3 linked regions of the Homo sapiens genome follow. The protein of the gene in region 1 purifies or fractionates together with the protein of each later gene. This does not show direct contact. Each region holds a gene or a part of one and is shown in the gene's direction. Other genes may lie near its edges.

Region 1 (3,654 bases):
AACTAGTATTAGAGACTCAGTCTTCCACGGTCAGCCTCTCTATAGCATGAGAATAACCCATTTGGGGGTGGTTTTACTTACTTTTTGCTTTGATAACCCCTTAAGAGTAGAAATAGAATCGTCACAGTATGTAGAACTCTTGGCTAACTTTTTTTGATCAAAAAATTCTTCCTTGATCCATAACCACTTAGTAAAGTTCTTTATGAAAGGTTTTATTGCCTCAATAGTGGGTATTAAATGAGGCCTGTTAAGAGAAAGCATAAAACTCAGAAAACCACCATTGAAATGTTGGCTTTGTTCTGACTAGGTCAGACCAGTGACTCTCTCAACCCTACCAGTGAACCATGAGTGCCAGTGTTGTGACCATCACAATGACATTCATTGAAAAGTTAGGAAAACCCACAGTTTACCTGGCCAATGTTATATCACTCTCCTAAGCTGTGAGATGTTGACACAAAGGGCGATGGGTGATGAAATAAGGTATTTTGGTCTCCATTATGAGTCCATTGGCCTGCTGTATCATTCTGGGCTACAAACCTCTACAGAAGTAAGAGAAAAATTATTTCATTGTTGTTGTTCTGATGAGGTGCAAGGTTATAGTGGAAAGAGCAGGCTTTGGCATTAAACAAACTTAGGTTTGCACACATAACCCCGGGCTTTTTTTCTTTTTTAAATTCTTAGATCCTCAATCTACTGTGAAAGGTTAATGTGAGGACTAAAAATGGTACACTTAAAGTGCTCACCACAGCCTGGCATGTAGACAACCATGAGAAATGGTTACCACCATTATTATTGCCACTTAACATGGGGCAAGCCTTGCGAACAACTTTACTATATGATCGTTTGTCCCTAACCAGTCACCTTCCAGTTAATCTTCCCTGATACATCATAAACCTGGTTATGAGAGTGTGAGTTTTGAATTGTTTTATTATCTTTCAGATCTGTAAGAGCAAAGCTAAAGAATCTCAGCAGTATTATCACAGCTTGGCTGTCCGGCAGAGTCTGGCTGTCCATTTTAACATTCAGCAGGACTGTGGTCATTTCCTTGCTGAAGTCCCTAACCGTCTGCTTCCCTGGGAGGATCCAGATGACCCTGAAAAGGATGAGGATGACATGGAAGAGACTGAAGAAGACGCCAAAGGAGAAACGGATGGGAAAAACCCAAAGCCCTGTTCTGAAGCAGCATCATCCCAGAAAGAGAATCAGGGAGTCATGAGCAAGAAGCAGAGGAGCCACGTTGTGGTCATCACCAGGGAGGTTCCATGTCTTACTGTGGCTGATTTTGTGCGAGACTCTCTGGCCCAGCATGGGAAAAGCCCTGATTTGTATGAGAGGCAGGTGTGTCTGCTGCTCTTACAGCTATGCTCTGGTCTTGAGCACCTCAAACCCTACCATGTCACTCACTGCGATCTACGCCTAGAGAACCTGCTACTTGTCCACTACCAGCCTGGGGGGACTGCCCAAGGCTTTGGGCCTGCAGAGCCCAGCCCCACCTCATCTTATCCCACTAGGCTTATAGTGAGCAACTTCTCTCAGGCCAAGCAGAAGAGCCATCTGGTGGACCCCGAGATCCTCCGGGACCAGTCTCGCCTTGCCCCAGAGATCATAACAGCTACCCAGTATAAAAAGTGTGATGAGTTCCAGACAGGCATCCTCATCTATGAGATGCTGCACCTACCCAACCCCTTTGATGAGAACCCAGAGCTGAAGGAGAGGGAATACACACGAGCAGACCTGCCTCGCATCCCATTCCGCTCCCCCTACTCCCGGGGTCTGCAGCAGCTGGCCAGCTGCCTCCTGAATCCCAACCCTTCTGAGCGGATCCTCATTTCAGACGCCAAAGGCATCCTCCAGTGTCTGCTCTGGGGCCCCCGCGAAGATCTCTTCCAGACTTTCACCGCCTGCCCTAGCCTAGTACAGAGGAACACCCTGCTCCAAAACTGGCTAGACATCAAGCGAACACTGCTCATGATCAAGTTTGCTGAGAAGTCCCTGGACAGGGAAGGTGGAATCAGCCTTGAGGACTGGCTTTGTGCTCAGTATTTGGCTTTTGCCACTACAGACTCCCTCAGTTGTATTGTGAAAATTCTGCAGCACCGTTAATGTGTACCTGGATGATGCTTTTACTACATCTTCACCTTCTTCATGTCACCCATGCACTTCCCCTCCCTAGTGCTCACTCCAAATTCAAGGAAAGAAGAAAGGCAAACCTCTATCCCTGTCCGTGAACAAGTGGGTCTATTCAGAAAGGTTATCCACTGCCCCAGATTGAATGAGAAGCTGAGTCTGTCTTAACTTTACAGAAATTCAGCTGCACAAACTTGCAGTTGCCTTCCCTTGAAACACCTTCTATCCTAATAGTCCCATAAATGCAGGTAAAAATGAAAATCCATATTCTTGAAGGGACAGCTTCTTTGGTATGAACTCAGCCAGTGAGCTGTGTCCATTTCCTCCATAATTCTGGATATCACCTATCTTTTTAGCACCAAGTATTTATTCTCACTAGCAGTAGACAGACTTAACCAGTCTCTACCACGACCCAGTAGACTCTGACAACAGACTCTTCCTTTAAGGTGTCAACAACTGACTTACTAGGCAGGACTGCCATCCTTAGCATCAGCCCAGTTTTGGTTACCAGGGACTATATCTTTTGTTCCAGGAGAGAGTAGAAAGAAAAGGAGAGATCCCATCCTTGGGTCATAGACCCATTTTCATTGCCATTATCTGTAAGTATGTGCACTGCATGGAGGACAGCCCTAATAGTCTCCCCTCTGCTGCCACTGCCTGATTCTCCACTCTGTCCCCACTTGCCAGTGAAGTTTGGATTTATCAGCCACTTGTGGCCCATTACAGAGCTGACCCAAGGTGGTGTCACCAATGCCTCAGCAGGGTGGAGTGCAGTTCAGAGCTTATAAATAGCTGGCAGGGCATGAGGAGATGATTTTCTTGCATGTGCAATTCTCTAGGGGCCATCAGGAAACAGAGTTTAAAGTACCCTTTGATTACTGTCAGAACTGTCAGCATTTGCAGTTTTCCCCGAGCAGTAATTGGCCAGCTCCCTTCTATCAGTAGCCAGTGTTAACTAGTTTACCAAATGCTGTAAACAATTGCCCTGAATGAAATAGCTGTCAGTGGAGCTCTAAGATCTCCTTTAGAGGGCACAGTGAGGTGGGCTGTTGGGATGGCCGTAGGCAGGGGAGAGGAAGAAGGCCACTGATGAGACTGCTGACCTCCTCAGAAGGTTGACCTCTTCTAGAGAGACTGCCTCCCAGTGTTTAAGTGGCTCATTGCTCCTTCTGACTCTGTAAAATGGCTCTGGAGGACAGCTCACAGGAATTCTGATTGCTGAGGTGGGTGATTGAGAGCTGTTCACCATGTGTGCAGCCTGTGCTCCCCTTCTATGGATATGTGTGCAATTTTTGTATGTATTTTTTTAGCTGTATATTACAGTGTTTATGTTGCAACTTCACCTGAAGCGAGTCTACAGAAACCCTCCCCCTTCTTCCCTTGGCACATATTTGCGCTAAGAGATGAGCGTTCCTTCCACTGGGGTTGTGTGTGTGTGTGTGTGTGTGTGTGTGTGTGTGTGTGTGTGTGTATGTATACACATGTTCACCTGTGCTTGTTTTATTCAAAACTGTGAGTATGTGTTTA
Region 2 (3,654 bases), on another chromosome or scaffold:
CTGTTACGCAGCCTGTAGTGCAGTGACACAATCATAGCTCGCTGCCCCCTTGACTTTCTGGGCTAAAGCAATTCTCCTACCTCAGCCTCCCAAGTAGGTGAGACTACAGGCATGCACCACCACGCCTGGCTCATTTTGTTTTTTTATTTTTTTGTAGAGAGGATGGTCTTGCTATATTGCCCAGGCCGGTTTTGAACACCTGGCCTCAAACAGGCTTCCCACCTTGGCCTCCCAAAATACTGGGATTACTGGCATGAGCCACTGCAACTTTGTGTTAAGCAAAACGGAAATGTGCCAAAAGGTTAGAAGTGGTTCCCTCTAGAAGAGGAATTATTAGGCCTTCTTTCCTGAGTACTTCTAATTTCTACATTGTTCATGCTTTGAACATTTTAGTAATATAAATGAGATATACCTACTCCTTTTTTGAACAGTAGATATATATATATAGTATATATATTTATCCTATATATACTATTTATATTATATATACTATTTATACTATATATAGTATGTATATAGTATATATACTGTATATAGTAGATATATACTATGTATATAATATATATGGTATGTATAGTAGTATATATACTATATATAATATATATGGTATGTATATAGTAGTATATATACTATGTATATACTATGTATATATACATATATACTATGTATATACTATGTATATATACTCTATATAGTATATTGAACAGTAGGTATATATATAGTATATATATTTTGAGCGCTTGCTGTGTTTTCAGCTGTTGGGCTAAATCTTTTGAGTACGTTATTTTTCCAATGAAACCCTGTCTGCTAGGCAGAGGAAGGTAATGCTACCTACCTAATTATGAAGATCTTTCAGAATAATCCGTATTAACTGACTTGGTTTAGTCCCTGGTATTTATTAAATCTCAAATGGCAGCTTCCATGATCATCATCATTGTTCATTCTTATCTTGCTTCTGTATATGAGAGAGTTGGACAAAGGAAGGCGGTAATTTGCCTGGTGTCATGTGGCAAATAGGTGTCATAACCTGGATTTCATCCCTGATCTTTCTGACTTCAAAGCTCATTATTATACTCTCCCCAGAGGGGCATGTCAGTGGAGCTTCTGACAACTTGATCTCTTCACCTTATCCCTAAGGGCCCCCCACACCAAGCCACCAAACACAAGCTTGTAAAAACGCGACCAGCCAGGTTTTTGGTTGTTTGTCAGGAGCTTCTTCTGAAGTTCATTACTGTTTGGCAGTTGGAATAATTTGGCAGAGGGTAAAAATAAGAAAATTGTTTGGATGAATGAAGATTTAAGAAACCAAATGACAAAGATATTGAAAATGAAAGTGAAATTGAAAATGAAAATGAAGGCTGGGTGCGGTGGCTCACGCCTATAATCCCAGCACTTTGGAAGGCGGAGGCAGGCAGATCACGAGGTCAAGAGATCGAGACCATCCTGGACAGTATGGTGAAACCCCGTCTCTACTAAAAATACAAAAATCAGCTGGGCATGGTGGCGCGCACCTGTAGTCCCAGCTACTCGGGAGGCTGAGGCAGGAGAGTCGCTTGAACCTGGGAGGGGGAGGTTGCAGTGAGCTGAGATCGTGCTACTGCATTCCAGCCTGGGCAACAGAGCAAGACTCCATCTCAAAAAAAAAAAAAAAAAAGAAGAAAAATGAAATAGAAAATGAAAAATACTTCCATTTTCATTTAATATTGAATTAATACCAAAGAACATTTAAACATATACACATACATATATAGATATAAAATGTAAGGAATATTACAGTGAACACTTATAAATCACCTAGTTTTTAAAACACATTATCCTGTCTCTTTCACCCTCAGAATCATTAACCTGAATTTTTACTTCTTTGCTTTCTGTGTAGTTTTTCCACATATGCTCAGTCCCTAAATAATATTTAGTTTTCTATGAAATGCAATTGTACATTATGTATTTTACTGCAATTGTTTTCAACAAATGTATATGTTCTTGAGGTTATCCAGATGGTGATGGGAGTAACCAATTTCTGCCAAAATATATTTAGAGGTTTGTTCTGGGCCAATATGATAGTGACTGCAGCCTGTGGTTACACGATCTCAAACAACCCTGACAAAGTGCACCCCAGGTGGTCAGGTTACAGCTTGGTTTTATACATTTTAGATACAGGAATTACATGCAAGGTATACATTGATCTCACTCAAAAGGTAGGACATCTTAAAGAGGGGGTTACAAGTCATAGGTGGGTTTTAAGGATTCTTCAGCTGGTAGTTGGTTGATAGAGGTAAGCTATGGTAAGTAGAAAGGAATGCTTGAGTTAAGGGGCTTGTGAAGGCCAAGGTTCTTGTTAAGTTAATTGAAGCCTCCTAGGTAGCAGCCCTCAGAGGGAAGAGATACTAAATGTCACTTTTTAGACTTTAATGTTATCAGGCTCTCAGTTAATCTCTCCTGGATCCAGGAAAGGCCTAGAAAGGAAGGCCTGGTTGCATTAATGGAGATTCTTGACAGATGCATATTTCCCCTAGGAAACATGGCTTTGTGGGGCCATTGAAATCCGTTGGCCATGTGGCAGCCATTTCAAAATGTCAAATATATTTTGGGGTAAAATATTCTGATTTCCTTCTGAGTCTGCTATTTGTCATAAGATGCCATACCAGAGTCAGGTTGGAAAGTAAGTCGTATTATATAGGGTTAATAAAAACCTGTCCAGTGAGATTTCGTAATTAGTAAGGCATGACTCCCCAGGCCTCTTAGTGAAGAACTTGGAGAAGAGAGAAAATATAAAAAAGATCAGCGTTTAGTCTTCACATATTATTGTATGAGCTGTAATTTACTCATTTCGCTGCATTCCACTGTATAACTATACTGTAATTTCTTCATTCTATAGTAACTATATGATAATTTCTGATAGTAGACCTTTGGGTTGTTTCCAGATATTTTATTCCTTTTTTTTTTTTTTTTTTTTATGAGATGGAGTCTCACTCTGTCGCCCAGGCTGGAACGCAGTGGTGCAATCTCGGCTCACTGCAGCCTCTGCCTCCCGCGTTCAAGCGATTCTCCTGCCTCAGCCTTCCAAGTAGCTGGGATTACTGGTGGGCGCCACCATGCCCAGCCAATTTTTATATTTTAGTAGAGATGGGGTTTCACCGTGTTGGCCAGGCTGGTCTTGAACTTCTGACCTCAAGTGATCCGCCCACATTGGCCTCCCAAAGTGCCAAGGGATTACAGGGATGAGCCACTGCGCCCACCTGTTTCTTATCTCTAACAGTGCTATGACAAAGATTGTTCATGTTTCATGGGGCCCATTTGCAAGAGTTTCTAGGATATAATTGCTAGGTCATAAGGCAAGTACCATGCTAAGTTGTACTAGGTAATGCTCTAAATTTAATTTTCCAAAGTGGTTGCGCTGATGTATGCACTTACCATTAGTGTGTAAATGTCCTAATTACACCATATTTTCACCAATCACCAAAATTTGATATAGTCAGGATTTTAAATTTTGGCCATCTTGTCAATATAAAAATGATATACTGTGAGTATATATTTAACTTTAAAAAATGATGTTCTTATGGCCAGGCATGGTGGCTCATGTCTGTAATCCCAGTACTTTGGGCGACCAGGGCAGGCAGATTGCTTGAGCCCCGGAGTTTGAGACCAGCCTGGGCA
Region 3 (3,654 bases), on another chromosome or scaffold:
CCCAGAACGGCCAGTGTGTTTCGGGTTCAGCATCAGCACAGGAGCCCTTCCGTGCTGCCACGTGACCCCTGGAGCTCGTTGATCCACTACCTGTGTGTTCAGGACTTCTCTCCTGAACGCTGTATATGTTGTTTGGAGAAACAATTACAGACATCAGATTTTCTTTTCTGTTGTAAGAAGAGATGATGCGTAGACATTTAAATTAAATCATTTGTTAATATCCTATACTGACAACCTGGCAGCGTTTGCAGGAGTGACACTGTGGACATGCTGTGCCCCACACGCTGCGGCCCCACTTACGCTGCTGGAGACGGTCCCCCACCCCGGGCCTCATCCTCAGCGAGGACCCCTGCCTGACACACACGGAGCTGGCAGTCAGCACCCCACCCCGCATGGAGCTGCGCAGCCCTGTGTCCCCACACACGGAGCTGGCAGTCAGCACCCCACCCCACATGGAGCTGCGCAGCCCTGTGTCCCCACACACGGAGCTGGCAGTCAGCACCCCACCCCGCACCTTGTGTCCCCGCACCTCGGCCATATTTCAGTTAACTACCAGATTCATCAGTGGGCCGGGGATGTGGGAAGCAAGATGATTCCCTGGTAGGCTCCACGGGGTCTCAGTGGGAAATGCAGGTGGAGGGACACAGCAGCCCTGGAAGTCCCGCGGCGCTGCCACGGGGAGGGCTGGACCACCCACTGCGGTGCCTCTCCCTCAGCAGGCACGCCCTCGTCGGCCTGGTTAGAAAATCATCTTTTGGCCTCACTGTGCCAGCCTAGTCAGCTCTCAGCTCCCTGAGTCAGGGAAAGGGGTGGAAAAGTGGACAGTCCAGCAGCGCATGTTCTAGAACCCTCTGCAGATGCAGCCAGGCCAGCGAGCACACGCAGGAGGCAGACGGACACCTTCTTGGGTGTTGAGTGGCTGCTCCTGCCTCAGGGCTGCAGATGCAGGCTCACAGCCCCCTGGTGAGTCCCGGAGTGGCTGCATCCAATCTCCAGATCCTCTGTCTTCCCATAAAGGAGACTGAACCCGTGGTGGTTTCTAGATCAAGATTTTTCTCTGAGTAACTCAGGGTTATTATAACATGCAACCTATGGTCACTTTGAAAAAGCTAATGAAAAAGCACTTGGATTTAACTTTGTGTCACTCAATTTTGGTATAAAACAACAACAACAGAAAACCAAGAACACCAAATTTACCGTAACCACAGTAAAATACGCATTTGAATATTCCGGTAGGAGGGCAGGCATCCCCCAGGTCCTGATAGATCCACTCCAGCAGTCAGGCCTGTGCTTGGGGACGCGTGGGCGGGTTGAGGATTGAGACGGTCTCTGATGATGCTAAAGAAGTGTTTCCTTTCTCTTTCCCCTTTCCCCCAACAGCTGCGGATAACCGTCTGGTCCTTGTGCACAAAATCCGTGTCTTACATCAAATACCCGAAAGCTTGTCTGCAGGGTGAGTCGATCGGAGCCACGCAAAAGCCATTTCTTTGCAGCTGTTTGACTTTTTTGTCACGGGAAGTTTCAAAGAGGCAGAAGTAGCTTCAGCAGCATATCAACACATAGCCAACCCCCTTGGGCTCTTTTAAAGGAGACCTTAGGTCTCCTCATACTTCATCTGTAAATATTTCCATATGTGTCTCAAAAAGGCAAGAGTCCCCTTTTAAAACATGACCACAGTGACTCAAGACAACGTGGCCTAAGACATGGAAGAACGGTGGCGTTGATGCCGGTCCCCTTGACCTTGGCGGCAGAGCTGGGCGTTCAGACCCCTTCCAGCCGATGCCTGTTGAGAGGCCCACCTCAGGCATCCAGTTCTGAGCTTTCTCTCTTCTGTGGACTAAATATGATGTCTGCGAAAGGGGGAGGTCTTGCCTGTCATCTCTGGGCATCCCAGAGGGATATGTGACCAGTGTCCCTTCCTTGTGGAAGCCTGTGAGCCATCTGGAAGAAAGGGGGCCGGCGCAGGGTGGCCCACTGCCAGCGCGTCTAACTGGACCGCGCAGAGCTAGTGGGAGGTGCCACTCCTGAGTCCTGGACGACACCGCACTGTCTTTTTGCGGAATGAAACATACACAGTTGGAATGATGCTTTCATTTTTCTCTGTTGCTGCCAGCGGTTTGGAAATTGCATTTGAATGCAATGCAGTCACACTCTTATTCTTATAGTTGGAATATTAGCGTCCCTCCAGATGAGATACATATCTCTTGATAGGAGTGGACACCGTGGTTTCGTCATTTGAGGTATTCTTTTCACTCAGGAATGATGAATTCTGGCCTAGGGCTTTTTAAGCTAATACAGAACTGGAAAATAAGAGTTTAACATTTTCAACTAAAGTTTCTTCCACATTTTCATCTTATTATTACTTTTTTGAGACAGGGTCTTGCTCTGTCACCCAGGCTGGAGTGCAGTGACACGATCACAGCTCAGTGCAGCCTCGACCTCCTGGGCTTAAGTGATCCTCTCACCTCAGCCTCCTGAGTAGCTGGGACTACAGGCACACACCATCACAGCCGGCTGATATTTTGTAGAGATGGGGTTTCACCAAGTTGTCTGGGCTCCTTTCAAATTCCTAGGCTCAAGCGATTCACCTGCTTCAGCCTCCCAAAGTGCCGGGATTACAGGCGTGAGCCACCATGCCTGGCCACACATTTTCATCTTCAGTTTACTTCTTCCAAATAATTAAATTCAAAGGTAAAATAAATATGGTAGGAACCAGCTGCCTTTTGCCTAGCTGGAGATAGCCCTGGGTGTCCCGCAGCTTAGACATGGGGGGACTCGAAGGCCTGTGTTTCTCACTCATATTTGTGATTAATCAGAGGTCACATCACTTGGTATTTTTGACAGAGCCTTGCAAACCGGCTCCTGTGTGTGTACAGCTTCCCCCAGCACACACTGCGTTGTGAGGGTGAAGGCACCGTGCCTTGGGTTTCTCCTCTGCGCTAGAATGTTCTTGTCTGTCTGAGGAGCAGTGCTCGGCATTGTGCCATTTCCCTTCTTTTCACCTCTGCTTTCTTTTCCTCCTCCTTCCTTGTGAATTACTACTGTGGTTTCTCTTGCTTGATTTTGTGGCCGCTTGATTTCAGTGCATTTGCCTCTTCCCACAGGAATCACCTTCACCAGGGACGGCCGCTACATGGCGCTGGCAGAACGGCGCGACTGCAAAGATTACGTGAGCATCTTCGTCTGCAGTGATTGGCAGCTCCTGCGGGTAAGGCGTCCCCCAGACTGGAATAAAGTTGTCCTGCTGACTGTGGAGGGATCGAGTGAAGTAGATCCTTCCAGATTCCAGGGGATCTTTGGTAGGATATGGAGCAAGGTGATGTTGTATTAACAAAGGGCAGGTGCGCTGCGAATCACTTCCAGTGGCACCCGGTTGTGTGTTCAGGAGACTTGGTGAAAAGGACGCGTGCCCAGGTGTTTTAAAAGTGAATATGCTGTCACATTTGAGCCCTTTTCCTTGTCCTGTGTGATGGTGTTTGCGCATGTGTGTGCCACGTCGGGAGTTGGGGGGACGTGGAAGTTCACCTTGACTGAGGGCCTGCATTAGGCAGGGCGCTCTGCCAGGTGCCCAGGCACAGAGGGCACTGCCCCCACAGCAGACATATGAACACGATTCCAGCACAATCCATCATTAAGGTAGAGCAACCTCTGGAA

What was found.
Region 2: the proteins of PEAK1 (region 1) and CARNMT1 purify together in Homo sapiens (co-immunoprecipitation; one large-scale study listed by IntAct). This does not show direct contact.
Region 3: the proteins of PEAK1 (region 1) and WRAP73 purify together in Homo sapiens (co-immunoprecipitation; one large-scale study listed by IntAct). This does not show direct contact.

What each region holds. Positions count from the first base shown.
Region 1 is NC_000015.10:77,112,605-77,116,258, reverse strand, and holds part of PEAK1 (inactive tyrosine-protein kinase PEAK1), read left to right. Parts: intron 1-939; coding exon 940-2,103; 3' UTR 2,104-3,654. UniProt on the Homo sapiens protein: Probable catalytically inactive kinase. Scaffolding protein that regulates the cytoskeleton to control cell spreading and migration by modulating focal adhesion dynamics. Acts as a scaffold for mediating EGFR signaling.
Region 2 is NC_000009.12:75,018,268-75,021,921, reverse strand, and holds part of CARNMT1 (carnosine N-methyltransferase), read left to right. Parts: intron 1-3,654.
Region 3 is NC_000001.11:3,636,549-3,640,202, reverse strand, and holds part of WRAP73 (WD repeat-containing protein WRAP73), read left to right. Parts: intron 1-1,380; coding exon 1,381-1,453; intron 1,454-3,104; coding exon 3,105-3,208; intron 3,209-3,654.